Homo sapiens: one gene and its partners. The protein of the gene in region 4 purifies or fractionates together with the protein of the main gene of each other region. This does not show direct contact. Each region holds a gene or a part of one and is shown on either strand. Other genes may lie near its edges. The genes, in order: ADPGK, ACTG2, POLD3 and TMEM165.

What was found.
Region 1: the proteins of TMEM165 (region 4) and ADPGK purify together in Homo sapiens (affinity purification with mass spectrometry; one large-scale study listed by BioGRID and IntAct). This does not show direct contact.
Region 2: the proteins of TMEM165 (region 4) and ACTG2 purify together in Homo sapiens (affinity purification with mass spectrometry; one large-scale study listed by BioGRID and IntAct). This does not show direct contact.
Region 3: the proteins of TMEM165 (region 4) and POLD3 purify together in Homo sapiens (tandem affinity purification; one large-scale study listed by IntAct). This does not show direct contact.

What each region holds. Positions count from the first base shown.
Region 1 is NC_000015.10:72,778,351-72,787,304, forward strand, and holds the start of ADPGK (ADP-dependent glucokinase isoform 4 precursor), read right to left. Parts: upstream 5,409-8,954; 5' UTR 5,342-5,408; coding exon 5,109-5,341; exon of another isoform or gene 4,485-5,108; intron 1,865-4,484; exon of another isoform or gene 1,847-1,864; intron 1-1,846. UniProt on the Homo sapiens protein: Catalyzes the phosphorylation of D-glucose to D-glucose 6-phosphate using ADP as the phosphate donor. GDP and CDP can replace ADP, but with reduced efficiency.
Region 2 is NC_000002.12:73,908,959-73,914,230, forward strand, and holds part of ACTG2 (actin, gamma-enteric smooth muscle isoform 1 precursor), read left to right. Parts: intron 1-96; coding exon 97-181; intron 182-4,526; coding exon 4,527-4,688; intron 4,689-5,272. UniProt on the Homo sapiens protein: Actins are highly conserved proteins that are involved in various types of cell motility and are ubiquitously expressed in all eukaryotic cells.
Region 3 is NC_000011.10:74,597,279-74,605,446, reverse strand, and holds part of POLD3 (DNA polymerase delta subunit 3), read right to left. Parts: intron 756-8,168; coding exon 653-755; intron 1-652. UniProt on the Homo sapiens protein: Accessory component of both the DNA polymerase delta complex and the DNA polymerase zeta complex.
Region 4 is NC_000004.12:55,421,432-55,429,459, reverse strand, and holds the end of TMEM165 (putative divalent cation/proton antiporter TMEM165 precursor), read right to left. Parts: intron 4,923-8,028; coding exon 4,817-4,922; intron 4,085-4,816; coding exon 4,008-4,084; 3' UTR 3,285-4,007; downstream 1-3,284. UniProt on the Homo sapiens protein: Putative divalent cation:proton antiporter that exchanges calcium or manganese ions for protons across the Golgi membrane.

The DNA of each region.
Region 1 (8,954 bases), on a different chromosome or scaffold from region 4:
CTCTGCACTTTCTCAACTCAATAGCATCCCAAAATGTAAAAAGCATATTACCTAAGGGGCTGTATTGTCAAGGGGAAATAAAGGGAGACACAGTTAAAGAATCAGAAGACAAAATTATGCTCATCTGACATGCAAGCAGAAGCTCACACTTCAGTAAAAAATGTATATTAGATGACTGTGATTTTGGAGAAAACACAGATGAAACAACTAGAAAATAGGTCAAGACAACAGATGCTGAATGTCAAAATGGGTTGGGGGGCTGGCAAAGAGGGCACAGTTCTCCCTTCTAGACCATAAGTGCCTCTAAGGCAAAGACGATGTTTCCTATCTCCTCCCTTCTGTTTCATCACCTGTAAAATGTTTTCTAAGGTTTTCTCTAGCTTTACATTATGTGCATCAGCTGTTATAAGAGCTAATCGTAATTGTTAAGACATAGAACTGTAAAGAGGCGGGGGAAAAATGGCTAGGGCAGTGGTCCCTGTGCTGAACCCTAGCTCCTGCATCTAGATAGAAGAAAGGCGGCTGATCTTTAAGAAGCACCCCACGCTAGGCAGGCATTTTCAGATAGATTAAACCTATTTGCAAAATGCGGTAAGATCGCTAATTAGTCATCACTGCTTTCAGCTGAGAAGAGTGAGGCCATGGATTAACTAACATTCCAAAGCCCACAGACAGGCAGAGCTGAAATTCAAACCCAGATTTATCTGATGATACTGAAACCCACGTAGGAAGTATACACAAGCAAAGTTGTACATGAAGGGATTAACCTTGTGTTTGGATACAATAAAGAATTATCTAGCTAGAATGGAGAATTCATACAGGGGAGAAGACCAAGATATGTTTCAAGGTTCAGGGTGAAGCCAGTTCCAGGGGCAATAAATATTAGCATGAGGGTTTTTTTTTTTTTTTTTTTTTGAGATAGAGTCTCACTCTTGTTGCCCAGGCTGGAATGCAACGGCGCGATCTCGGCTCACCGCAACCTCTGCCTCCTGGGTTGAAGCGATTCTCCTGCCTCAGCCTCCTGAGAAGCTGGGATTACAGAAATGCATCACCACGCCTAATTTTTTTATTTTTAGTAGAGATGGGGTTTCTCCATGTTGGTCAAGCTGGTCTCGAACTCCTGACCTCAGGTGATCCACCCACCTCAGCCTCCCAAAGTGCTGGGATTACAGGCGTGAGCCACCATGCCTGCCGGGTTTCATCATTTTTAAACCAATGAATAGGTACCAGAGTCTGATTTAGAAGCAGGGGAAGTTTCCTAGAAACGCCTTAAAACTCCTCCTATCCTTTACTTCTTTGACCCCTTTTCACCAGCCCCTTAATGCACTAGCATTTAAGGGCTAGTGCCTCCCAGAATTCCACCTTTACCATTTTTACCTTCTCCTCTTCTCTTCCTGGGTGATCCTATCCAGTCTCTGGCTTCAACCTAAGTGCCAGTGTCTCCAAAATTTGCAATCCTGTTTCTCAATATATTCCTAAAAACCAGCTTCTCATTTTCAGTAGCTGACAGAGAAGCTTCATCTGAAATCCCATAACAATGTATGTACATTTCTCCTCCTCTGAAATCCAATTTATCTTCTGAAACTTGTTTTTCTTAAATCTCTCTTAATGGCAACAACATGGCATCAACAAGGAACCAGAAATGGGAAAGACCAGGCTTCAATTGCTCCTCTGGCACTTGATAGCTACAAGATCTTGGGCAAATAAATCAATGTGAGAAGACTCGGTGACAATATCTGTTATCTGCCTCCCTCATAAAGTTGTTGCATTAGTCAATTTTCATAATGCTATAATGAATTGCCCGGGACTGGGTAATTTATAAAGGAAAGAGGTTTAATTGACTTACAGTTCAGCATGGCTGGGAAGGCCTCAGGAAACTTACATTCATGGTGGAAGGTGAAGGGGAAGCAAGGCACCTTCTTCTTAAGGTGTCAGGAAGGAGCCGTGCCGAGTGAATAGCAGGGAAGAGCCCCTTATAAAACCAAAGGATCTCATGAGAACGAACTCACTATCAGGAGAACAGAATGGGGGAACCGCCCCCATGATTCAATTACCTCCACCTGGTCTCTCCCTTGATTAGCTTATGGGGATTACAATTCAAGATGAGATTTGAGTGGGGACACAAAGCCTAACCATATTAGTTGTTATAAGATATTTAATACTGGGCTGGGTGTGGAATCACAGCTGTAATTCCAGCACTTTCAGAGGCCAAGATGGGAGGCCAAGGCCTGATCCCAGTAGTTGAAGACCAGCCTGAGCAACTTGGCAAATCCTGTCCCTACCAAGAATATAAAAATTAGCCGGGTGTGGTGGTACATGCCTGTAGTTCCAGCTACTCGGGACACTGAGCATGACAGGTCAAGGCCACAGTGAGCTTGAACATGCCACTGCACACGCCAGCCTGGGTGACAGAGTGAGATGCTGTCTCAAACAGAAAACAAAAACTAAACAAGATATCCAATATTAAAAACCTGTCGTTTTTGACTGCCTTTCTTTACTCCACCACATCCAAACTATTATTCAGGTTATCTCTCAAATCTCACCTCTTCTACATCATTGCCGAGTTTGGTTCGGGCTCCTTTCTCCCTTTACACAAACCCTACAATGGCCTCTTAAACCAGTGTCAGGATGTCAAGATATTCCTCCTTATGAATCACATTAAATGGCATTTTGAGTGTGTCTGTGTGACAGAGAGTGTGAATACGAGTGTGTCTCTAGAGAAGTCAAACTACAACCTCAAAATGAGATTCTGATACAAGTACTACACCTGCTCCCCCTCATCCCTCCTATATCCCCCTATCTTTGGGCTAAAAATCCTCTTTGGGTAATAAATGATGAGAAGCAGTGAAACAGTTTAGAACCACTGCTCAAAATCCACCCTTCACATTCCCACCAATTCTCAACAAAGAACTTGTCATCAGTTAACTACTTACAAACCTTTATGGCTTCCCCATAAAAGGCCCTTCACAATCTGGTCCAACCCTTCGTTCTCAGCATCATCTCTTTACAACCCTCTACCATAGGATTCTCGCTCCAAAACAAGGCCGACCTGTTCCCAAACAAACCATGTACTTTTTCACATTTGGTTCTCTTGCCTAGGTGGACCTGTTCCCACTTTGGCTTGAAGAAATCTCATTTATTTAGTGTCTGTCCTATGAAAGTCACTGTAGTAAAATATATTTTCCAAGATGGTGGCAATAAGATGCCCCATTCCAAATGTTCTTTTCACAATGTGACACTGATGCTCCTCCCATCAAGGTTTGTTCTATGTCCCCTCCCTTAAAACCAGGTGGACCTGTGACTCTGGTAGAAGAGTTCCTATGTGCTTCTAAGGTAAGGTCGTAAAAGGCATTAAGGCTTCTGCCTGGTCCTCGTGGGTTGTTCCTCTTCTAACCATAATTGTTATGGATTGAATTGTCCACCCCCCACCAATTCATATGCTGAAACCCTAATTCCCAATGTGACTATATTTGGACGTAGGGCCTTTAAGGAAGTAGTTAAGGTTAAATAAGGTCATACGGGTGAGCCCTATTCCAAAAGGACCTAGTGTCCACATAAGAAGAATAAGAGGCACCAGGAGTGTACATGCGCAGACTAACTGAAAAGCCAGCTGGCTGCAAGCTAGGAAGAGAGGCCACATCGGAAGCCAATCCTGCCAACACCTTGATCTTGGACTATCAGCCTCCAGATCCACGAGAAAACAGATTTGTTGTTTAATCCACCTAATTTGTGGTATTCTGTTCTAGCAGCCCAAATGACTGATACAATAATATGTTTCCAACAAGTGAGACAGGGGCCTTGCTTCACCCATCTCTGTATCTTAAGAACCTAGCACAGACCTGACACTAACCATGTAGTTGGTGAATATCTGCTGAATGAACGCGCATAAAGCAAGGAAGGACAATTTAATCCCAGCACTTTGGGAGGCCAAGATGGGAGGCTGGCTTGAGCTCAGGAGTTCGAGACCAGCCTGGGCAATATAGCAAGACCTCGACTCTACTAAAAAAAATAAAATAAATAAAAAATTGGCTGGGCGTGGTGGTGCTTGCCTGTCGTCCCAGCTACTCCAGAGGCTGAGGCAGAAGGATCTCTTGAGCTCGGGAGTTCGAGGCTGCAGTGAGCAGTGATTGCACCACTGCACTCCAGCCTAGGCGACAGAGAGAGAGACCCTGTGTCCAAAAAAAAAAAAAAAAAAAAACCCCAAAATTATAGCTAATATCGAATGCTTTTTAAAGCAGGCACTATGCTAGAGAGATTACATGAATGATGTCATTTAATCTTCAGGCCAAGTTTGCTCTACTTTACCCCTCCCGGCCCCAACACTCCACAGAAAGTAGTGAGCTACATGGTAGAGGGCCTGCTTTTATGTGGTGGTTATACATAACTCTGAGATTACGGCAAGAAAGTCAAATCGAACTGAGACAGGGACTAAAGTTAGTGTTTACAGTATCAATACTATAAAGAAAATAATTACATTCCCAAGGAAAAGTACAAAGAAAGGAGGTAGTGTCATTTGGAAGAACCTTAAATATGCAGTGTCACTGAAGTCAGGGGAAGAAAAGAATTTCACGGAGAAGGGCGTGTTCAATGCGTGGAAGGCTGCAGAGTAGATAATGAAGATTCAAAAAGGCAAATCTGAGAGGAGTTGCAGTACAGTCGTGTGGTTTCTAGACTACACGGCGTTTCGAAAGTGGGTAAAGGCAGACATCACGCGTCTTCAAGAAGTTCAGAAGAAAGAGGAAGAGTGTTGTCATAGTGGGTAAGGTCAAGTATCTTTGATTGCAAAACAACAGTCGCCAGAAGAGAAGGGGCTAAAAGTTGGAACGAGGAAGAAGGCTCGGAGAAAGGTGTCAGACAAAGCGGGATTAGCAAGAAGCTGTTAGGGCTGGTCCTACCGGGATGAGAGAAAGGCGCAGAGGCCAGCCGAGTGGAAAGAGCAGCGGTGACGAACCGGGTTCCACTCAGACGTCCGACACTTCTCGCCAAGGGGCCAGCGCGGACAGCAGCGCCTCCCGGGGACCTCTGAGAAGCCCTGTTTCTGCGCGGCTCCGCCCGACCTCCAAGGCCGACCTCGGAGGCTCAGAGACCCAGGCCCCGTTGGCACTCACCCCACTGCCACGCGGCGCCAGCGCCGGACTGGCCGCACGATAAGCGCGTCCCAGGCTGCCGCCAACCGGCCCTCGGGGGAGACGGGTCCCGGGGGCGCAGGCGCGGGCCCCAGACACAGCGAGCTCCAGAGAGAGCGCAGCGCCGAGCCTGGCAGCTCTGGCTCCAGCAGGAAGACGCAGCCCACGGCCAGCGCCAGGAAGCCCGCGTACGCGGAGCCGCGCCACAGCGCCATGGGGACCCAGGCGCCGCACCTGCGCGAACCAACTCCTTTCCTAGCCCGCGCCTCTTCCGGGCTCGGCGCGCGCCGATGTCGACACAAGCGCTACGTCACAAGGGTGCGCCACGGGGCCCCCCAAGGGGCGGGGCGACGGGCGGCGCCAGGACGGAGCGAGGGGGGACCCCACGCCTCAGTCCCAGGCCTGGCACTGCGGTGTTGCCGCCCCGGAGGAGGTGGGACAACGGCGGTTGTGCCAGTCCGGGCGCTGCACCCCCTTCCCGGAACTCTAATCGTATCCCCAAATAGAGGGATGGGAACACATTTGCTTTCGCAGTAAAACGAAACGGACAGATTGTGAAGAAGCGGACAAACCTCGCGTTAATATTCGAACCAGTGGGTGTCCCCATTGGCACGGATCACACCCCCATCTTTTAATCCCTCCCTCCGCCCGTGTCCCCTCATTTGCTAGACTTGTCCTCTTCCAGGCCTAGTGCTCGGCGCTTCTGAGAGGAATAGGCTCACAGAATAGCGGCGCTGCCGAGACCCCTGGGGTACGCGAGGCAGGGGGATTCCGCCCCTTTGGAAGGTGGCCGAGACCCTCAGCCACTAAAGGACTTCGTCGAGACAGGAGAGCCCGCAGAGATCGTTCTCTTCTGGATAACCAGATTATTCCACAATCAAACTTTAACCCTTTTGGGGGCGCTGTTCCCTTTAACAAACTCTGGAAAATGTACACAATCTTGTGCACAACACGAGAGTTATGGACCTGGGTTGAGAAACGCTGCTTTCTTTTGTTCCCCCTTGGTGACATCACTTAAACCCAGCCCTCTCTTCGCTGATACTTTTCTGTGCATGAGGCTAGGTTGAGAGACAGTGAAGCTAGGCTGGGTACCAGCTCATTCTCATCAGCCACAATGCCCGGCCTAGTCTTGTTCCCTGGTTTGTTTCCACTTTTCCAATTCTCTCGGCTCCTGACCTTGGCTTTGTGTCCAGTTTTCCACTGTGACCCTGACCTTTGGACTTGGCAGCGAAACTTTATTTCCCTAACTTTGATCTTGGGCATTAGTCTTCATTCTCCTCAGCCCCACCTCATCAGAACTTCCCCATCCTGGTCATCTACCTTCCCGCAGTTCATCCTACCCAGCCTACCTGACCATGCCATCCCTTTCGACAAAGATATTCACACAGGAACAGATTTGGGCTACCTTGGAAAAGAAGCCAAAGAGCCAGTCAGATCTTTATGAAGCCATGAAAGCCATCTTCCCTAGAGTTGCCTGTCACTTCTCTCTCCTTAGGGAGACATGTCAGTCAGTTCCTAGAGAAACTGCTTCTTCTCACAACCCTCAGCTGTCAGGTTTCCCTGGCACCCAGAGGGGACTGAGCCAGCAGCTGACCTGAAAACAGCGAGTCTGCTGACTGTCCAGCGATCATTTCCCTCTATTGAGAATTTTAACCAAGTTTCTGTTGTCTGTAGTTATTTGATATTGGCTGTGGACCCACAAAGTCACACAAGGCTAAAGGTCAGAACCAGTTAAATATGTTTCCAAGGTGAAGTTTTGGGGAGCACAGGAAGCTGAACTGTGGGAAGGTGATAGAACAGACAGATCTAGAGGACTAGGAGAGTGCTCCACATTAAAGTGATGTGGACAGAAACCTGCCTGGGGCTTTCTTGCTCCCACGAGAGGCTGCTAAACTTCCAGCACTTTGCACCTAATTCTTCTGCTTCTTTCTAGATTTGCCAGAATTGTTGATTTAGTCACAGAGACAAAACAACAGCAGTTGAACAAAGTGGATGTTTATTTCTCATGTAAAAGTCTAAATGGGGTGTTGGCATGTTGTGGGCTGTGGTAGCAAGCTTGGCCCCCTCTGGTTGCTATGGGACCTGCTGTGGGCCTCTTGCTGGTTAGTCACTCAGTGTGGGTTTGCATTGTGGGTGGTGAAGGGGGCCAGACAAGGAAACGAGAGAGCTGACCTCAATTCCAACTGAGAACTGAAGAGTCAGGAGCCGCAGGAGGTGAAGAACAGAACACCAGGGACAGTTGCCAGGCCTGGCGGAGCCTGATGTGGCTTCTGGTCACATACAGAGTCACAGGGCCCTTAATTCCTTCTCATCGGGGCTCAGGGGCAGGCATTCACTGTCTTGGTGCCACAGTCCCTCTTGAAATATTTCCTTAACGAAAATCAGAAAAGATTCTGATCATCTATCTGTTCAGAGAGTCTGGAATCCTTTGCAAGCCAATTGTTTTTCTAGAAGTTAGGTTTCTGGGGACAATTAAAACAGCTCTGAGTGGGCAGCTGTGGCTCCTTTGCCTAGGCTGAACAAAGAGGAAAGGGCTGGGCTGGGCAGGCCTCAAGACACCCCCCGCCCCCACCCAAATTGCTTCCAGACATGGCCTTTCCTATTGGTTCTCTCTCCTAGGACCTTGAAATGAGAGAAGAAAAGCAATTTGGTTCTAGAAAATTCAGAGGCAAATGGAGGCTCCAGGTGCCCCACCCAAGATCCTGACCTGGAAGGCCAGGGAGCAGATCCTGTATGAACACAAAGAATTAGCAGAATCCTGTCAGCTTCCAAATTAGCTGAAGGTTTTGGCTTTAACATAAATACCCATCAGCGTCACCCCCGCAATCTGAAAGGCCTTAAGGGGCACATTTGTTCCCACGTGGAGCAGAAACTAAAGTGGGACCAAATGGTCCCTGTGAAAGCTGGGCTAACCCACTTTCCTTGCAGCTCCAGGCCTCTGGGGTTTCATCCAAGCTGCTCTTTGAAGGCCACACTGTGTCAAAGCCTTTGTTGATGCCAGGGACACAGCCCACCACAGGCCATGCCCAAAGGCCAGAGTCAGAGCACAATTTTGAAGATTACAGAAAACTCCAAAGAGATTGAAGAGATGGAATAAAGGATCCCAGCCCCCGAAAAGAGAAAGCTTTGTGTCTGTAGCCATAGCCCTTGGCAATCAGACATCCTCCTCACTAATGTGAGGTCAGGAGGGGACTAGAAGTGCTCAGAGGATGGACTGCCTCTGGCCAGTGCAGGGGAGAGGCAGGGGTGTTGAGGCACAGGAGCCAGATGAGAGGAACGTCAGCAGCAAAGCAGTAAGAAGAACATGAGAGTTTCTTGATAGTAATAGAACTTCCTACACAGACTGGGAACCGGGTTGTAGCTTGAGGGGATGTGACAACATAGTGGCCCGGAATTTTCACTTTGGAAATTAACTGCTTTGGACCAGGAAGAAGCGCTGAGCCTAGAAAGGCAGGAGGCACAGGACTGTGTGGGCTTCTGTCTGGCAGGGACCTATGAGCTTCATAGGGCGAATGAATCGGGGCAGGATAAAGCAGAGGCCTCCACCCTCACAGTGCTCTTAGCCATCTCAGGCTTCCCGGAACACTGCTACCAGGCTGCCTGCTGGAGCCCTTTACACTCACAGGCCTTCCTGCTTGGGTTCTCTTCTGCAGGCTGCGTAAACCAGTCCTGTTGTAGCCCTTGTAGCATCTGCTGTAGTGATCTGGTTTGGGTTTCAGTATTACTTGCAATGGTTTGGAAGGAAATGGGAAGTTTGCCTTCTAACTACATTTTCTTTTTGATTCAAGAACCCTAGCAGTTCTACAACCACTGGGCCTAAAACTAAAA
Region 2 (5,272 bases), on a different chromosome or scaffold from region 4:
TAGTTCCTGCCCTTAATGAGATTACAAACCATTCTACAGGCCAAGAAGTGCTGTGATTTTTGCCAAATAATCTTTTATTCTTCATTGTCCTTTAAGATCATGTTTGAAACCTTCAATGTCCCTGCCATGTACGTCGCCATTCAAGCTGTGCTCTCCCTCTATGCCTCTGGCCGCACGACAGGTGAGTAATCCTGTAATCCATTCCTTTTCTGACTTCAGGGGAGGTAGGGAAAAGCTGGGGTCTGGCAGAGGCTCCTGCTCAGAAGAATCAAATGGACAGCTGAAGTCCAGGCAAAATCTTTCTTAGGGATAATAGGTGAGAATGCCCATGTGGAATGCCAGATGTGAGCCTAGCTGGTATAGTTGGAAAAAACATCCAGCAAGAACTGTTTCCCTCACAGTAATAATTCCAGGAGCTTCTACACATACACACATTCCAACAATACTGGAATGTTTCTGCTTCATGAAGCAGAAAGAGTAGAACCTGTGGTGGTGGAAATGTAAGTGCAGTTACACATTGCTTAATGACAGGGATACGTTCCGAGAAATGTGTGTCATTAGGTGACTTTGTCACTGTGGGAACATCAGAGAGTGTACTTGCACAAACCTAGACGCTGTAGCCTACTACATGCCCCGGCTGTATGGCGTGGCCTATTGCTTCCAGGCTACAGACAGTATAGCATTTAACTATAATTAATACTGTAGGGAACTGTAACAGAATGGTTAGGTATTTGTATAGCTAAACATATTGAAACATAGAAAAGTTACAGTGAAAATATAATATCAAAGATAAAAAATGGTACACCTGTGTAGGGCACTTACATGAATGGAGCTTGCAAGACTAGAAGTTGCTCTGGGTGGGTTAGTGAGTGAGTAGTGAGAAAATGTGAAGACCTAAAATGTTACTGTGTACTACTGTAGACTATAAACACTGTACACATCGGCTGTACTACATTTATAAAAATATTATTCTTGGCCAGGCACAGTGGCTCACACCTGAAATCCCAGCACTTTGTGAGGCTGAGGTGGGCGGATCACCTGAGGTCAGGAGTTCCAGACCAGCCTGGCCAACACGGTGAAACCCCGTCTCTACTAAAAATACAAAAATTAGTTGGACGTGGTGTCAGGCACCTGTAATCCCAGCTACTTGGGAGGCTGAGGCAGAAGAGTCACTTGAACCTGGGAGGCAGAGGTTGCAGTGAGCCAAGATCACGCCACTGCCCTCCAGCCTGTGTGACAGAGCGAGACTCCGTCTCAAAAAATATGTATATATATATATTATTCTTTCTTCAATAATAAATTAACCTTAGCTTACTGTAATGTTTTTTACCTTATAAACTTTTTAATTTTTAAAGCCATTTTTACTTTTTTTGTAGTGACAGTAATAGAAAAACATCTTTTTTCGACTTTTTTTTTTTTTTTTTTTTGAGACGGAGCCTTGCTCTGTCACCAGGCTGGAGTGCAGTAGCGTGATCTCGGCTCATTGCAACCTCTGTCTCCCACGTTCAAACGATTCTCCTGCCTCAGCCTCCCATGACTTTTTTTTTTTTTTTTTTTTGAGATGAAGTCTCACTCTGTCACCCAGGCTGGAGTGCAGTAGTGCGATCTCAGCTCACTGCAACCTCCGCCTCCTAGGTTCAAGTGATTCTCATGCCTCAAACTCCCAAGTAGCTGGGACTACAGGAGCGTGCCACCATGCCTGGCTTATTTTTGTCTTTATTTAGTAGAGAAAAAAAAGGAGTACACCCTTTAAATGTCGATCAGAAATTTCCAGGGCTGACCATTCTCCTCTCCAGATCCATCTCATGTTGGCCAGGCTGGTCTCGAACTCCTGATCTCAAGTGATCTGCCCACCTCAGCCTCCCAAAGTACTGGGATTACAGGTGTGATCATCACCCCCAGCCAAAAATAGTTTCATTTATATCCTTTATTCTACAAGCTTTTTTCTATTAAATTTATTTTATTTTATTTTTTACTTTTAGAGCTTTTTTGATAAAAACTAAAATATACACATTAGCCTCGGCCTACACAGGTTCAGGATCATCAATACCACTGTATTTCATCTCCACATCTTGGCCCACTGGAAGGTCTTCAGGGTTAATAACATGCATGGAGCTGTCATCTCCTATGATAACAATACCTCCTTCTGGAATATCTCCGGAAGGACCTGCCTAAGGCTGTTTTACAGTCAACTTTTTATTTAATAAGTAGAAGGAGTACACTTTAAAATAATGATTAAAAACATAGTATAAGAGCTGGGTGCAGTGGCTTATGCCTGTAATCCCAGCACTTTGGGAGGCCGAGGTGGGTGGATCTCTTTGAGCTCAGGAGTTCAAGACCAGCCTGGGCAACATGGCTACAACCTATCTCTACAAAAAATACAAAAAGTTAGCCGGGCATTGGTAGCTCACGCCTGTAGTCCCAGCTACTCGGTAGGCTGAAGCTGGAGAATTGCTGGAGCCCAGGAGGCAGAGGCTGCAGTGAGCTGAGATCTCACCACTGCACTCCAGCCTGGGTGACACTCAAAAAAAAAATAAAAAAATAAAAGACAGTATAAGAAATACATAAGCCAGTACTAGTACCATAGTTGTTTATTATCATTTTCAAGTATGTTGTACATAATGTATGTGCTGTACTTTTATACAGCTGGCAGCACAGTAGGTTTGTTTACACCAGCATCACCACAAACACGTGAATAAAGCGTTGCCCTATGACGTGATGTCAGCTATGATGTCACTAGGCAATAAGAATTTTTCAGCTTCCTTATAATATTATGGCACCACCATTGTGTATGTGGTCCGAAGTTGACCAAAATGTCATTATGTGGACATGACTATATGTGGCCTTGGTATAGAAGTGTGCTCAGCGTAACAGAGGAAATCTCAAAATAAAATGGTCTTTAATAGGAACTTGACAGCTTCCATAAACATTTGTTTAAACGTTCATTAATCATTTATTCACTGATTTATCCATTCATTCATCCATCATATATTTTCCATTACTCCCTACAATGTGCCAAACATGGTACCAGGCCATGGGCACACACTGACAAATAAGACAGACTTTGTCATTATGGAGCTAACAGTTTAGTGGGAGATAGACAAAAGTAAAAGATAATTTCACTGCATGTGATAAGGACAATGATGGAGAAATGCATGGCATATACAGTGTCGTATCCTGTGCTTTGCACTTTGGTTTTTGTTTTTGTTTTCATTTTGAGATGCAGTTTCGCTCTGTTGCCAAGACTGGAATGCAATGATGTGATCTCAGCACACCACAACCTCCACCTCCCGGGTTCAAGCGATTCTCCTGCCTCAGTCTCCCGAATAGCTGGAATTACATGCACCTGCCTCTGCACCCGGCTAATTTTTGTATTTTTAGTAGCAATGGGGTTTCACCATGTTGGCCAGCTGGTCTTGAACTCCTGACCTCAAGTGATCTGCCCCCCTTGGCCTCCCAAAGTGCTGGCATTACAGGCATGAGCCACCGCGCCCAACCTTGCACTTCGTTGCAAACATCATGTTTAATAGCCACGTGGTAGTCGTTGTATGATGGTTTCATTATGTATTTATTTTACCATTTCTCTATTGCTGGAGCTTTAGGTTGCCTCTCATTTTTATTATACAATATGCCATGATTCAGGTCCTTACACAAGAGTAAGTTGCTGCTTTCTGGACATTTATTTTGCATCTGGCCCTTACTGAACCATCTAACTAGGTCTAATGGTTTCTTAATTGATTCTGTTGGGTCTTCTGTATAAAACCACATTATCTGCAAATAATGACAATTTTGGTAGTCACACCTCCTATTTCTATTTTCTGTTTCACTGCAATTGGCTAGAACATCCTGGACAATATTAAAAAATGGTGGTGATATTGTAATGTTTTCTCATCCGTTATGATGTGGCTGTTAGATTAAGAAATATGAGGCTGGACGCAGTGGCACATGCCTGTAATCCCAGCACTTTGGGAGGCCGAGGCAGGTGAATTGCCTGAGGTCAGGAGTTCAAGACCAGCCTGGCCAACATAGTGAAACCCCACATCTACTAAAAATACAAAAAATTAGCCGGGCGTGGTGGCAGGCACCTGTAATCCCAGCTACTCAGGAGGCTGAGGCAGGAGAATCACTTGAACGTAGGAGACAGAGGTTTCAGTGAGCCGAGATCATGCCATTGCACTCCAGCCTGGGCAACAAGAGCAAAACTCTGTCTCCAAAAAAAAAAAAAAAAGAATATGCAATGTAGACTTAATGCAAATTGACAAGTATGCATTACCAGTAATGTGTTTCAAGGAATACAAAAAAAGGACACATTTTACTTGCCCTCCAGAGGCCTACAGTCTCACTGGGGGGAAAAAAGTGACATACATAAAAAATAAAAAATATGATTGATGATTCTTGTGATGGGTGAATATTCTTAACTGGTAAAGGAAAATATGGTAGTCAGAGCTCATTGGTAACAGTCCTAGAAAGAGACTGATGAAAGGCAAGAATGAGAATTTTATAAGCCTGATCCTCTCTGTCCACAGGCATCGTCCTGGATTCAGGTGATGGCGTCACCCACAATGTCCCCATCTATGAAGGCTATGCCCTGCCCCATGCCATCATGCGCCTGGACTTGGCTGGCCGTGACCTCACGGACTACCTCATGAAGATCCTCACAGAGAGAGGCTATTCCTTTGTGACCACAGGTATCCAGCCCCTTTTCTGATTCTGACTGGAGCTCAGAACCAATCTGGTTTAGGACAAGAAGTTCTCAGGACCAATGAGAATTCTGTGACTCTGTGTCTTTAAACTCTCCTGAGATAGACTGAGAGGCCTTAAGCTGGGGCTAGGCCTCTGGATAAGACCAGATAGTCATGGAAGCAGTCCCTCCTTCCCCAGAGACCAGCTGCCTCTGTCCACGTCCACACCAGGACTAGGGCTAGTTTCCACAGGCTGAATGGTAGTGAAGATCTGCTGATGCATTTCATTACCTAGGGGCACCTTTGGTTTGAGGACAAATTGAATAAGTGAGGCCCGAATTTCTAAGGGGAAGGTGTCATGTGGCCCACCTGGGCAATCGGCATTTTTTAGGTGGGAGCCTCTCTAGGTTCTGTAAGATCAAACATCTGAGTCTAGACCAGAAATATGTCCTGCAAAGCCCCCAGGAAGGCCTAAGGCTTTGTCAGAAATCTCATGCAAAGTCCTGCATGGGAATCAAGACTTGAGACTCCCTCTTTAGAAAGAGGAGTGGAAGAATTAAGATTGAATGGAGTGACGCTTGACCCTCTTC
Region 3 (8,168 bases), on a different chromosome or scaffold from region 4:
TGGGAGTAATAGAATGATCCCTGTGCCCCTGAGAGGGACATGAAAATAGTTAAGAGAAAAGTCAAGCAGACCTGAGAAAGCCTTACAGTCAGGATGATGAAATCCAGCAGTCACCTGTGTTGCCAGATGACCAGATACCAGGTGGGACTACAAAAAGAAGAGGAAGGAGAATAAAATGTTCCCAGCCTATGCACTGCATTAGCTATGCTCCTGCCAAAAACTCTTACCCTTCAGGCACTTAGACGTAAGCCTACCCAAATGAATGTTCAAAATTAAAAGAAGTTCAGTTAAAAAAATTATAATTTTTGAACACTTGTATTCATGGTTTGAAATTTGAACAGGTGGAAAATTAAACACCATTGTTCTCCATATACCTTCAAGAGGAAAAAAAGAGATATAGGGAATAACAGAAGCAGTCTCCTAACATCTTATTGCATAATAATGATACAGTCTCTGCATCACAGCCAAGATATTACCCAAACTTCTCAGTTTTAGATTTAATCTAAAAATCCAAAATAATCATCACCATCAAGTAGCTCTTTAAAACTACTATAACACAGAATCTTGATTTTTTTCTCTCCCCTGAACTATGTTATAACACTCTTCATAACACAAACACATTTAAGCTCATTACAAGGCTCTGAGAACTTACGGAATGTCCATTCTGAATGAGACTGCCAGACACCAAGTAGGTAACATGCAGTTGGGCTCCTGAATTTTCTTTTCGTTTCCTTTCAACATAATCATACAGCATCCTATTCCAAAGAAAAGAAGGCACAAGTAAGACATCAGTAAGAGTTTTTACATGATCAACTCTTAATTAATGACTTAAAAGATAAATGAAATCTGGTAGTCCATCAAATTTTCTGAACAGTAGCATTTTTGCTTGGCCTATGGACAGTTGAAAAAAAAAAAGGATGGACTTCAGACAGGACATGGGGAGTAGAGTCCATGTGTTTGGAGCTGGCACAGTGATCAGTACATTAACTGAAATAAGATTAATAATAGACCAAGAGGGACTGAACCTGCATTAAAACAGTGGCAATGATACATAATAAATAGAACACTGAATCAAGAAGTAGTTTGGTAACTGTCTAAGCTCTGGATAAGTTAATTAATTTGTCTAGGCCTCTTAATATCCCAAGGCGTAAACAGGAGGGTTATATTAGATTAGTGATTCTTTTAACCTGGGATTCAGGTGGCCATCTATAACCCTCCAATCCTAAAGTTTCAGCAAATGTTTATGTGCTTTTTTGGGAGATGTGTGAGGGTTTTCAATGGATTCTGAAGAGTGAATTACTCCAAAACATTAAGAACTACTAAGTATATGATCACAAATGTCCAGCTCTGAAATTCCAATTTTATGATTACTCAGATTTAATGCCGGTTCAGAATTGCAGAATGTAACAGCTTACTCACATTGCCCAGTATTCAGAATAATTCATTAACCTGAGATAGCCAAATACTAAATGCAGAAATAATGTTGCTTTTAGTAAAATCTCTAAATTCATTTTTACTCTATGATCCAGCAAGTATCAGAAGTTGGCTCCCTTCAATAATCTAGTTTAAAAACAACAAAGAGACATGTCTTTTATTTTGAGAAACATTTACAATCTGTCTATAATATACTTCTGCCAAGCATAGCTAGAAATTTAAAAATCCCCAGAGAAGCTCAACCTACATTGCTGTTCACTCTCTTCTTGAAGAGCCTGCTCTCTCAGCTTCCATAAAACCATGCCCCACTGAGTCTTCTGCTACCCCTCTCACTGCTTCTGCTTTACTTTCTGAAGAGACTTCTCTACCTCCTCCCTTTCCTTAACTGTTGGTATTCTGTCTTTAGCTATTTTTTCACTCTATGTATTAGAGTGACTGACCATTCCTGTCTGCCTGGGTCTGAGGGGTTTCTTGGGATGTGGAACTTTCAGTGACAAAACCAACCATCCTGGGCAAACCCAGGGTGGCTAGTCACCCTACTACATATTTTCCTCGGTTTATTTCATCCATCTCTGACAACAACATCATCTGCTGAAACCACGCAAGCCAGAAATCTGGGAGTCATTATACTTCACTTCTTCCTATCCAATGAGTTGCCAAGTCTCATCAGCTCTCCTTCCCAAGTAATTCTTGACTCCATGCCCTCCAAATCTCTTGACTAGACTATTTCAATTCCAAGTATCAATTCCTCTTCTCCTCCCCACCTCACCTTCATTATCCATGATGCTGCCAGAGTGAAGTTTAAAAAATGCAAATCAAGTCATTCAATCAACAAAACTTTACCAAGTGGTTACTTTATGTTCTACGCCTTAGGGACAGAACAGTGAATAAAGCAAAGTCCACTCTTAGAGCTTACATTCTAGAAAGGAGACACACAATAAACATATAATATATAATCTCAGATGACAGTAAGTCTATGGAAACAAAGTTAAGTAAGTTAAGGAGGACAGAGGGTGCCTGAGAAGTTTTGCTATTTTATATAAGGTGATTAGGGAAGGCCTCATTAGCAGAGCCCTGCAGGGAGGGAGGGAGCCAGCAAGGTGGATATCTTGGGAAACAATGTTCTAGGCAGAGAGTCCAGCAAATACCAAGGTTCTGAGGCAGGAAGGTCAGCAAGATCCAAGGAACAGAAAGGCCAGTGTGCTGTAGTGGAATAAGGACGGTAGTAGGGGAGAGAGGGCAGAGTGCCAGGCACATAGGGCTTTGTGGCTACCACAGGACTTTAAGAAGCCATTAGAAAGTTGAGAGCAGAGGTAATGTGATCTCACCTTTCAGAAGGATCTGAGAAGGTTATGTGGATGATATACTGTAGAGGGGCAAGGGAGGAAGCAAGACCAGTTAGGCTATTGCAATAACCCAGCCTAGAGATGACTGGTAGCTCAGTTTGGGGCAGTAGCAGTGCAGGTAGTAATTAGTGGATGAATTCTGGGTATATTTTAAAGTGAGAAACAACAGGATTTGCTGATATACTGTGTTGAAGTGTAAGAGAAAGAAGAGTCAAAAATGACTGGACTAGGCAACCCAAAGAAGGAAGCTGTAATTCACTGAGATGGGGGAAAAGCAGGAAAAGCAGGTGTTGAGGGGAGAAGTCAGGAGTTAGGTTTGGGGGCATATTAAATTTGCAATGCCTATTAGTCACTGTTGATGTTGAAAAGGTTGCTAGAGAGTCTTGTCTGAAACATAATTCCTTGTTATAAAGCTTTCAGTAGCGCCAGGTGTGGTGGCTCACGCCTGTAATCCCAGCTCTCAGGGAGGCAGAAGCAGGAGGATAGCTTGAGCACAGGAGTTCAAGACCTGACTGGGCAATATAGCGAGACCCCATGTTCCACAAAAAGGGAGGAGAAAAAAAAAAGTGTAACAAAGCTTTCAGTAGCTTCTCATCCCCTAAGGATCAACTTCAAATCTCTAGCAATGACAGGTAAGACCCTTCTTGTTCTGGGCTCTGTATCTCTGACCATTCCCCATCATACCTACACTATCTTCATCCTTAATGAAACATTCTACAATTCTCTTTATTCCTTTGTATATGCCCTTCCTTCTGCCTAGAAGGCTCTTCTCAGGCCTCAACTACCTAATTTCTCATCAAGACAGCAGCTCAGTTGTCACCTCCTCTATGAAGTATGAACCCTTCCCCAACACCATCAGGTCACCAGGGCACATCTTTTTTTTAAGAGATAGAGTCTCACTCTGTCGCCCAGGCTGAAGTGCAGTGGCGCAGCTCTCTATAACCTTGAATTCCTGGGCTCAAGCCATCCTCCTTCCTCAGCCTCCTAAGTAAACAGGACCACAGGTGCATGCTACCATGCCTGGTTATTATTTTTTCTTCCTGGTAGAAACAGGCTTTTGTTATATCTCCCAGCCTGACCTCGAACCCCTGCGCTCAAGTGATCCTCCTGCCTTGGCCTCTCAAAATGCTAGGATTACAGGAGTGAGCCATCATGCCTAGACAATGAGCTTCTGCCATCCAAGCTCTAACAAATTTTATCCCATATCTATTATTACAGCACATATCACCCTGCCTTCTAACTATTTATTTTACATATGACGCATCCCCTCTAGACTGTTAACACCTTGAGTACAAAAAGGTGCCCTAGTCAGGATTTTTGCTGATTCCTCCTCTTTGCCCTCTAATGTTTCTTTCCATTACAACAATTGTGTTAGAAGGATAAATGAGCTAACAGATCCACAAACATTTTGGTTTATTGATGCTAGTTTGGACCATGCTAAAGGAAGACATGATAGGCAGGTACCATGCCCAAAATGCTTGCAAGCTTGCTGGCCAAATGCACTATCTTTTATCCACAACTAATAGTCCTGCCCATATCATCAGTCATTGTCCTCTATGCACTTGTCTCCCCAAATTGACCCCAGTTCTTCTCTCTTATATTAACAGAAAATGCAAAGCAAACTCTTATTTTAAAAAACAATTCTTGTGGCTGGGTGCGGTGGCTCACACCTGTAATCCCAGCACTTTGGGAGGCCAAGGCAGGCAGATCACCTGAGGTTGAGAGTTTGAGACCAGCCTAACCAACATAGAGAAACCTCGTCTCTATTAAAAATACAAAATTAGCCGGGCACATGGTGGCGCATGCCCGTAATCCCAGTTACTCGGGAGGCTGAAGCAGGAGAATCGCTTGAACCTGGGAGACAGAGGTTGCAGTGAGCTGGGATCGTGCCATCACACTCCAGCCTGGACAACAAGAGCAAAATCCTATCTCAAAAAAAAAAAAAAAAAAAAAAAAGGAAAGAATTCCTGCCTACTTTTTGAGTCTTTAAAACATGTTTTATCTAATTTAAGCCAAACTTTTCTGTTTTTTTGGAGATAGAGTATCGCTCTGTCGCCAGGCTGGAGTGCAGTGGCGCGATCTCAGCTCACTGCCATGTCTGCCTCCTAGGTTCAAGTGATTTTCCTGCCTCAGCCTCCCAAGTAGCTGGGACTACAGGCACACGCTGGCTAATTTTTTGTATTTTAGTATTTTTGTATTTCAGTAGCGCCAGGTGTGGTGGCTCACGCCTGTAATCCCAGCTCTCAGGGAGGCAGAAGCAGGAGGATAGCTTGAGCCTGGTCTCAAACTCCTGAGCTCAGGCAATCTGCCCTCCTCGGCCTCCCAAAGTGCTAGGATTACAGGCATTAGTCACCGCGCCCAGCCTAAGCCAAATATTTTTTAATAAACAAAATATAAAATATTCTTAAATAAGAATGACAACAGGCTGGGCACAGTGGCTCATGCCTGTAATCCCAGCATGTTAGGAGGCCGAGGCAGGCGGATCACGAGGTCAGGAGTTCAAGACCAGCTGGCCAGCATGGTGAAACCCCATCTCTACTAAACATACAAGAAGTTAGCCAGGCGTGGTGGCATGTGCCTGTAGTCCCAGCTACTCGGGAGGCTGAGGCAGGAGAATTGCTTGAATTCTAAAGGCGGAGGTTGCAGTGAGCCGAGATTGCACCATTGTACTCCAGCCTGGGCAACAGAGCTGTCTCAAAAAAAAAAAAAATAATAATAATAACAACATATATGACTTCTTACAAGATACACTTCCTACACATGATTAATTATAGCTTCCCATTTTAATTCATTAATCTTCCCTCCTGATCAGTTCCACCCATAATGTTCCCCAGGATGAGTACAGTGTATTGCCCATACCGCTTTCTCTAACCCAACTTAATTATTTCACAGCATTTTCACAGTCTGAAATTATCTTGTTTAAATCAACCAGGGGAGGGACCCTGTCTGTCAGGTTTACTGTTGTATGACATAGCCTGAAATAATGCTAAAAAAAAACAGTATGAGGCCAGGCACGGTGGCTCAAGCCTGTACTCCCAGCACTTTGGGAGGCCGAGGTGGGCAGATTGCGAGGTCAGGGGTTCAAGACCAGCCTGGCCAAGATCGTGAAACCCTGTCTCTACTAAAAATACAAAAATTAGCCAGGCGTGGTGGCAGGTGCTGTAATCCCCACTATTCAGGAGGCTGAAGCAGGAGAATCGTTTGAACCTGGAAGGTGGAGGTTGCAGTGAGCTGAGTTCCGCCACTGCACTCCGGCCTAGGCAACAGAGCGAGACTCCGTCAAAAAAAAAAAAAAAAATTACTTGAGAGAAATGTTTGTGAAAATACTATAGTGAGGCCGAGCATGGTGGCTCATGCCTATAATCTCAGCACTTTGGGAGGCTGAGGCAGGAGGACTGCTTGAGTCCAGACGTTCAAGACCAGCCTGGTCAACACAGCAAGATCCCAACTCTACGAAATAAAAAAATCAGCTAGCATGGTGGCATGTACCTGTGGTCCCAGCTACTCTCAGGAGACTGAGGTGGGAGTATCCCTTAAGCCTAGGAGGTCATGGCTAAAGGAAGCCATGTTTGAACTACTGCACTCCAGCCTGGGTGATACAGTGAGACTCTATCTCAAAACAAACATAAACCATAGTGCTTGGTATTCATTCAGTATGTATTGGCATTCATTATGTGCCTGACACTGAAGACAGAATAATTGTGGCATGTTATATTTTCCAAAGATGGCTGAGACAGCATCTTCCATTCCATATGCTCTTCTACATTCTCTCATTGAGAAGTAGAGCCCACTTCTTGAATCTGGTATGACCAGTTATTCACTGCTTGACTTCTGAGGCTAGTCAGAAAAGGCAATTGGCTCTACATTGTGCTGGAACACAAGCTTTTGGAGCCCTGAGCTTCTATGTAAGAAGTCCGACTACCTGGAGACACCAGGCTGTGAGAAAGCCCAGGCCATACAGATAGACCACATGCAAGCACTCTAGTCCACTGCCCCAGCTAAAGGCCCAACAGATGGCCAGAATCAACAGCCAGACATGTGCATAAAGATGCCTAGAGATGACCAGGTTCCAGTTATTGAGACTTTCCAGCGGGGATGCCAGACATCATGGAACAGACATAAGCCATTCCCACTGTGCCCTATCCAAATTCCAAAGCAAAAGAATCTATGCGCATAATAAAATGATGTTTCCAGGCACTACATTTTGGGGTGATTTCTGACACAGCAATAGTAATCAGAACAGTGATGAACCTGACAAGTTTCCTGCCTTCATAGAGTTTATATTCTAGTGGGGAAAGACATATAATTAGCAAGAAAATGCCAAGACAATAATATGAATTATAAAATGCTGGGATAACCGTATACCCATGTGCAAAAAAATGATGCTGGACCCTTTCCTTACACCATACACAAAAAATCAACTCCAAGTGATTCCTAGAAGATATAGTCAATATTTATACATTTCAGTGATTCATTTAAAAATTAGCTTGAACTAACACCTAATCTGAAAGCTTTAGTATAGTCTTACTGTAGGAACTAAAGCATTTTTTTCTTTTTCTTTCTTTCCTCCCTTTTTTCTCTCTCCTCTCTTTCTCTTTTAGAGATAGGTTCTTGCTCTGTCACCCAGGTGTGATCATAGCTCACTGCAGCCTTGAACTCCCGGGCTCAGACAATTCTCCTGCCTCAGCCTTCTGAGTAGCTAAGACTGCAGGTGCATGCCACCACACCAGGCTCATGTTTTAAAAAAACTTTTTATAAAGATGTGGGTCTCACTATGTTGCCCAGGCTTGTCTTGAACTCCTGGGCTCAAGCAATCCTCCTACCTCAGCCTCCTCAAGTGTTGGGACTAATACAACTGAGCCACCACAGCCACCCGACTGAAGCATTTCTAATGTTAACAAGTACATGGCCAGGTGCAGTGGCTTATGCCTGCAATCCCAGCACTTTGGAGGACAAGGCAGGAGGATGGCTTCAGCCTGGGAGTTCGAGACCAGCCTGCACAACACAGCAAAACCCCGTCTCTACAAAAAATACAAAAAGTAACCAAGTGTGGTGGCATGCGCCTGTAGTTCCAGCTAGTCGGGAGGCTGAGGAGGGAGAATCACTTGAGCCTGGGAGGCTGAAGTTGCAGTGAGCCAAAATTGCGCCACTGCATTTCCATCTGGGCAACAGGGTGAAACCCTGTCTCAAAACAATAATAATAATGATGCTAACAAGCACACGATCTGTAGAAAACTTAAACATAGTGATAACCATGATTTTTTTAAACTCTAAGTGGATTACAGAATTAAATATAAGTGCAAAAACTAAAAAATCTTAGAAAAAAGCACAGGAGTAAATCTTCATAACCCTGGGTTAGGCAAAGCCTTCTTAGATATTATGTCAGAA
Region 4 (8,028 bases):
CTGCCCAGTAAAGCAGTGTTGGAATATTGGAAACCTAGACATTTGAGGATCCTTCTTGCTCACAAGCATTGGAACAGAATCCTCCACTTTAGGACTCAGAGAAGCTATGGAGTCCCACAGGCTAGGTATAGCACACAACTTAGAGAACGGTAGTTAAAGCACGTCAACCACAATTGAATTTAATGATCTAAAAAATATTTCTTAACTCTGAGGGTTAAACTGAAGATACGTTTTCAAATAAAAGCTTTTAAATTTCTTAGGAAACAAACTGTGACATCGCTTTTAAAAATGACATTCAAATGTTTATAATGTGTGTTTTTGAGTTGGCTTGGACTAGTGCAAGTTCACTGCTGGCAATGGTTATGCCAGTAGTTAAGTTAAAATAAGTTGTTACCTTCAGATTGATGTCTTGTATAACCAGACAATCATCTTCAAGCAAAAAAATTGGCCAGGAAATGTCTTTTTAAAAAAAAAAAAAAAAAAAAAGATGTGTCAGCCAGAACAGTTACCATTCAGACCATACTGGAATGATTTTGAAATCTTTACTATGGTTTAAGTTGGGGAAGGCCTCAGTATGGCATTTTCATATTCACTCTATGTAAAGATTGAAGCCCAAAGATGAGTTAAATTCAGTGCTGTATTGAAACCAGTCAGTGCAAAAAAAAAAAAAAAGTTTTACCTTTGTAAATTTTTCATTGTTAACATCAGTTGGTAGTTGTTAAAACATGCACCAAATTCTTTATAATGTTCTGTGTGGTTCTCAATGTGATATTCTTGACATTGCTGTCCTTACTGCTTGGTTCTTGGTTTTAAATTAAAAAGTAGATGTAGCTCATCATTTTTACTTCCAAAACGGTGGAGCTAAAAACGGCTAATTGATCTTGAGATAAGAATACCCTTTACTAAGGCAAAGATTTAATTGAAATCCAAAATGATTTATAGAAACGAAAGGCATTTTCCATTTGTTGTCTTCTGCCGAAATTCTGAATTGCATACACACATGAAGGATAATGAATGGTTTCAACGGTGCTATATTAGGTTCTCTGATTTTCATGACCTATGTATGTTTGGAAATACAATATTGTATAAAATGTGGATCGTTTTGTTACCGATTTAATATTGCCATTTTAATTTGGTGTAACAATTGGTTACACTTGTTTTTCAAAGCTATCCTTTGAGGAGAAAGTCAAAATGTGTTGTTAGCCTACCTCCACTCAGGCCTCTTGCTGTGTAATCATTATTCCAGGTTATGATGTGCATAGCTTTTAAAACTGCGTGTACTATTATTCTGCTCTTTCCCATACTCTTGTCATGTATTCAGAACCTAAACTTATAGCAAAAGAGCCAAGCAGTAGCAGTTTTTGTAAATGTAAAAATAATTAGATCCAGACTTTGTTTCCTTCAATTTTAAAAATAAAAAATACCTCAGTGCTATGTTTTTCAGTTATCACCTGCATTTCTCAAAAAATAACACCTGCTTCATGTGGCACATAACTTGTAAGAATCACATTTTGGATTTTAAAGAAAGACTATTAAATATTTTAAGATCACTATCAATGACATTTCCCTTTCTTTTATTCAACAATGGAGCCTATTGCAGTAGCGATTTTTACCTTATAGCTTAGGTCTGACTTACCAAAAATTCTCAGAGGAATTATGTCCTGCTACAAGATTGTGGTGCCTCAGAATGCGATGCTGTTCTTATTCGCATATGAAGCTAGTAATGGGACCAAGCTACCTGAACTGAGGTTACACGATGATGGTGCCAGCTACTCCCTACGAGGAATTGTCTTTTCTGTTGTTATTAGAAAAAACGGTTGGGTGCGGTGGCTCACGCCTGTAATCCTAGCACTTTGGGAGGCTGAGGTGGGTGGATCACCTAAGGTCATGAGTTCAAGACCAGCCTGGCCAACATGGTAAAACCCTGTCTCTACTGAAAATACAAAAAAATTAGCCAGGCGTGGTGGCGGGCACCTATAATCCCTGCAACTTGGGAGGCTGAGGCAGGAGAACTGCTTGAACTCAGGAGGCAGAGGTTGCAGTGAGCCGAGATTGCGCCACTGCATTCCAGCCCAGGTGACAGAGTGAGATAGATTGTCTCCAAACAAACAAAACGTATTAGTAGGCCAAGCATGGTGGCTCACGCCTGTAATCCCAGCGCTTTGGGAGGCTGAGGTGGGCGGATCATAAGGTCAGGAGTTCGAGACCAGCCTGGCCAGCATGGCGAAACTCCATCATCTCTACTAAAAATACAAAAAATTAGCCAGGCGTGGTAGTGCACGCCTGTAATCCCAGCTACTCGGGAGGCTGAGGCAGGAGAACTGCTTGAACCCGGGCGGTGGAGGTTGCAGTGAGCCAAGATCACACCACTGCACTCCAGCCTGGGCGACAGAGTGAGACTCTCTCAAAAAAAAAAAAAAAAATACTAGTGAGAATTCCTCACTCTTTCTTTATAACAAACAAACAATCTAAGGCAATATAGACTGTCTAACCACAGAGTTTATCTTAATCCACAGACATTGTTTTCTACCCTTTGATACTTCCTATAGCAGAAAACTACAAATATGACCTTTTTTACCAACATGTGCTACTTCTAACTTGGCATTTAAGCTGAAAACTCCTCTTAAGATCTCCACAGTAGTAGCTATCATCTTCCTCACAGAGTTACCATGTAGGACAATTGCTGCATCCTACAGTGCTGGATGATTAACTGGGTTCTTTCACAATCTCTTCAAATTGCAGACTACATTGTGGACCTTTGTAGTAGCTCATAAACCTGAATTGCTCTGGGTCTCCTATTATACCTCACACAAATAACATGGATGTTTCTGTAGAATTGTCCTTCAATTTAGTGAGGCTATTAATGGGAATGTTACTGCATATGATTCTAGAATATAAAAGGCTGAGAGAAAGCAGCTGTTATGCTACTTGGGTGAAGTAGTAGTCAAATCAAAATATACTCAAACGAGGGTGACGACTGAAGTTGCCATGAAAAAATGAGGTAGTCTTAGCATAATGAATGACATTAGGCTCTGGAATTAAACCGCCTGGTGTGACTCTACCATGTAACCTTGGGTGAGTTAGTTTTTTTCTTTTTTAACCTTATATTAGTACCTACTACCTCACAGAACTGTAAGGGTGACAATGCTTTCGAACAATGCCTGGCTCCTGTTTAGCTACTTTAGGCATATCTCAAATATTTAATATGTTAGTGTTTTTACATCAGCTTTAGAAATTGGCCTATCAATACTGATAATTTTATATGACACACAAGGAAAAACAAGCACTGGTCATACCACTTTTATTTATATTGTTATCTATGTTACATTGTTTATTCAATATAGAAAAAATATGAATACATTCATAGTATTCTCTTTTAATTTGGTAATTCCACATTGTCAAATATTGACTGTTTTTATATTGGGTGTCCTACCCAATTAAAAAAAAAAGAGGAAGAATGACCTGGCAGACAGTTCTTGTTGTGCCATGTTATTGATATAACAGCAATATCATATATGTCTCTTTTTTTAAACACCTAGTTTTGAAAAGACCAATGATTAAACTACTGTTTACTGGCTCAGGGAAATGTTTTAAGAAATAGAAATTAATTCATTCTTTCCCCAAGAAAAACTTTAAGGTAAACATCTTAAAACACCTAAGTGATGAAGGAGAAAATTTGTATTCCTTAAAAAGGGGTCAGTGCTGAAAGAAAATTGCATGGTAGACCCCACTGCACAACGGTTCTGCACCAAAAGAAAAATGAGGACCATATTAACATAATTATGTTGGAGAGAAGAAAAACCCACACTTAGAAGTCAGGTTTCTTTTAAAACTCCTTGTTACAAATAGAATCAATGATTATATCTCAGACATAATAATGGGTCAAACTCACAAAATCAGTGCTACAAAATACAGTATTTTTCCATCACTTTTAGTTGTAATGTACACTATGTACAGAAAGATAATACTACCTATTTTAAACTAAATATAGATGAACAAACAGCTTGTTAAAAACCAGAATCAGGGCTTATAAATAGTGCAGAAAATGCAAACGCCAAAAAAACGATGCCTCCTATGATTGTCACTGGAAGAGAGAGAAAAAAAGTCAAATACAGTAAAATTCCTATACCTTGATACTGTACAAAATGAAAAGGGAGCCGATGAGGCGGCCAATTATTCTTCCAATCTATTAAACTAACCTTGAAAACAAATTAGAATCACTTCAACCCCTTTTACATAACAAGGAACAATACTTAACATGCTTGACTGTGAACACTAAGAATCAGGTTTTCTCCAGCACTGTTTTGAGAAATGACAGGATTGTATTAAATCCAGACAGTGCTGGCAAGCAACAGTAGAACTATAACTCATCTTAAAATCCAGTTATAAAAGAAAATGTTCAGGTCTTCTGACTAGCAAAGAGACGATTCTTCCATCTCTAGACCTAACTGTGGCTTCACAGGACATATTCAGCAGAATCAGTACATATGGTCTCCACATGATTCCAGTCTTGTAAGACACATTTTTAGAGCCAAAAACTTCTCATACTTCCAAATGACAATTGTTTTACTAAGATAATATGTTAACAAGAAGCTACTATGAATTCGATAAAAATGACTTTGTATTTTGCTAACTTCTACACAGGTGAAAAAAGTCCGTATTTGCAATACCAGGATTAATACCTCTATAAGAGATGGTAGGTAATTAGAAAAACCAAGTATACTTCAGCAGCAGAAATTTAAATAATCAAAGCTAACACCCTTTAATCTCTCAGTGATTCTAAAATGTTATCTGATTTGTAATTTTCAAGACTTACCAGTTCTGACAGAGATTTTCTGTGCTATCATTCTTCCTCCAATTACTGCCAATCCCGTGCACAGGCAGTGCCCCACAGTTCCACCCACGGCTACACCATAGGGGTCCTGGAAGCAAGCGTCACAGCATTAATTCAAAACCAAGGTGACAACTGCTGCTTGAGAACCATAACAATTCAGAAGCACTAAAAATGGTGGCCAACAATTAAAAAGCATAATAGTTATAAAAATGCAGGTGTATAATAAATTTATGAGAGGTGTAATGGCTGCTTGAAGGAATATGTACCAGTTATACTTAAGACTAGACCTAAAAGTTGAAATAACCCAAATCAATTTGTAAAGTCAAACAAATCCTGATGAAATAAAGCTAATCGAACCTTTCAGCAGTTATTAAACTTCCTTCACAGGCAATACGTAGCACTGCTATGACAAGTGCTAGGGAGGATTTTAAGCTAGACATCTGTTCCCTCAGATACTGCTTGGTATTAGGAGAAACTCAGTCAATCCTTCACAGAATAGTATGCCTCTGCTTCCTGGGAACAGAAACCCTGCCTCAGTGCCAGGAATCAAGGATTTATCCAGTGAACACATGTTACCTGAGCAAAGCAGACACTCAGATTAGGGGGAGAGGGGTATGTAGTAAAAGTTTCCCAGAAGATAGTCCTGAAGAATGAACAGGGCATAGTGAGAATGTGATTTTGTTTTGTGGGAGAAGGAACATGCTAAATAGAAAGCAAAGGCCAGCAGTACCAGACAACCAGCTGCAGAGCCCTTCAGCATTTCACAAAAGGAGGTCATGAGGGTAGGTGGGAGTCCAGGTGAGGGAGGACCCTATCATCTTGGAGTTTAAACTGTGTCCTCAGACACTTGTTGGTTTTTAGCTGGAAAGTAACAGAACAGATTAATGCTTCAGAAATCCGCTAGGCCAGGTGCAGTGGCTCATGCCTGTAATCCCAACACTTTGGGAGGCTGAAGCAAGAGGATTGCTTGAGCCTGGCAGTTTGAGACTAGCCTAGGCAACACAGTGAGACCTTGTCTCTACAAAAAAATTAAAAATTAGCCAGGCATCCTAGCAAGCACAAGTGGTCCCAGCTACTCGGGAGGCTGAGGTGGGAGGATCATTTGAGCCCAGGAGGTCGTGGCTGCAGTGAGCTATGATTGTTCTCCATCCTGGGCAACAGAGCAAGACCCTATCTCAAAAATTTTTTAAAGTCTAGTGGAGAGAAAGAACCAGAGGGGAACAAGACTGAAGGAAGGGTGATCCACTGCGATGCTATGGCAACAGCCCTGGGAAGAAACTGCGTTGCCCCAGATCGGGGCAGATGACTGTAGGCAAAGAGCAGGTGAATTTGAGAGAAATTAAGAAGGCAAAATTAACATACCTCCATGATAAATGAATGATAGGCTTTATGGAAAAATATCAGAGCCAAGCAGAGTGGAGCCAGCCACTCAGGAGGCTAAGGCAGAAGGATCACTTGAGGCCAGGAGTTCAAGGCTAGCCTGAGCAGTACAGCGAGATCCCGTCTCTTAAAAATAAAATAATGGTGCAGTGGTTCATGCATGTAGTTCCAGCTATTCAGGAGGCTGAGGTGAGAGGATCACTTGAGCCTGAGTTTGAAGCTACAGTGAGTTATGATCACACTACTATGCTACAAATTCCATCCTGGGTGACAAAGCAAGACTCCATCTCTTATTAAAAAAAGAAAAATAGGCTGGGTGCAGTGGCTCACGCCTGTAATGCCAGCACTTTGGGAGGCCGAGGAGGGTGGATCACGAGGTCAGGAGACTGAAACATGGTGAAATGCTGTCTCTACTAAAAATACAAAAAATTAGCCGGGTGTGGTGGCAGGCACCTGTAGTCCCAACTACTGGGCAGGCTGAGGCAGGAGAATTGGCTTGAATCCAGGAGGCTGAGGTTGCAGTGAGCTGAGATCGTGCCACTGCACTCCACCCTGGGTGACAGAGTGAGACTCCATCTCAAAAAAAAAATAAATAAATAAAGCATGACACCCAAGTTTCTCTCCCACAATTGATGAACTATGTATGGTAAGACCAATGTGATTTTTAAAGTTAAGAGTCAGTTGAATCAGGGTGGGTGGATGGTTCACACATGTAATCTCACCACTTTGGGAGGCCGAGGCAGGCAGATCACCTGAGGTTGGGAGTTTGAGACCAACCTGGACAACATGGTGAAACCCCATCTTTACTAAAAATACAAAAACTAGCCAGACTTGGTGGCACATGTCTCTAATCCTAGCTACTCGGGAGGCTGAGGCAGAAGAATCGCTTGGACCCAGGAAGCAGAGGTTGCAGCAAGCCAAGATTGTGCCACTGTACTCCAGCCTGGGTGACAGAGCAAGACTCTCAAAAAAAAGAGTCAATAAACCTGTTACAGAGAAAGCAGAAAGAGAAGAATGTTGATAGCATAATCATGAGGGACAAAGGCAGCATTCAAGGAAGGACAGAGAAAGAAGGGTCCACAGGAGAAAGCAAGTGAGGTGGCCAGCCAATCACCTCCTGTAAGGACCAACGGAGGCATCATGCAAGGCCACAGGGAGCTCAAAGCACAACAACATTCCTGGTGAGGCCAGAAACTGGGTTCCCATGGGCTAAGTATGCAAGGAGAACAGAGCCAAGGCTTATTCCCATCACAGCCAAGTCCTCTGACACTGCAGGAGGGCAAGAGTTGGATTTGCGATGTACAATTGAGAAAAGGGGCTTTTTTTTTTTCTTTTTAAAGGATGAGAAAAAATTGGTACACACGAACAATGCTCACAAAACGGCTGGGAGAAAGGCAAAATCTAAGCATATTATAAGGGTGGGATTCAGAATACAGGAGGGCAGAGGGGGCTGCCACTGTGATGGGTGGGAATGAAGAAAGGGAACTGCTACTGCTCTGAAGGAGAAGGGAAAGCCCGCTGTCGGGCAGTGTGTGTGCAGAGACAGGAAACTGGCTGAAGCATCCACTGTGAAGAATGGAAGACTGGGACTACATTTCCCAAATTCTACTTGTGTATTATAAACTGCTACCCATGAAGATGGTTCTATTTGAAAGTAATATTTAGGCCGGGCGTAATCTCAGCACTTTGGGAGGCCAAGGTGGTCAGATTGCATGAACTCAGGAGTTCGAGACCAGCCTCTGCAACATGGCAAAACCCTGTCTCTACAAAAAATACAAAATTAGCCAGGCATGGTGGTGGGAACCTGTAGTCCC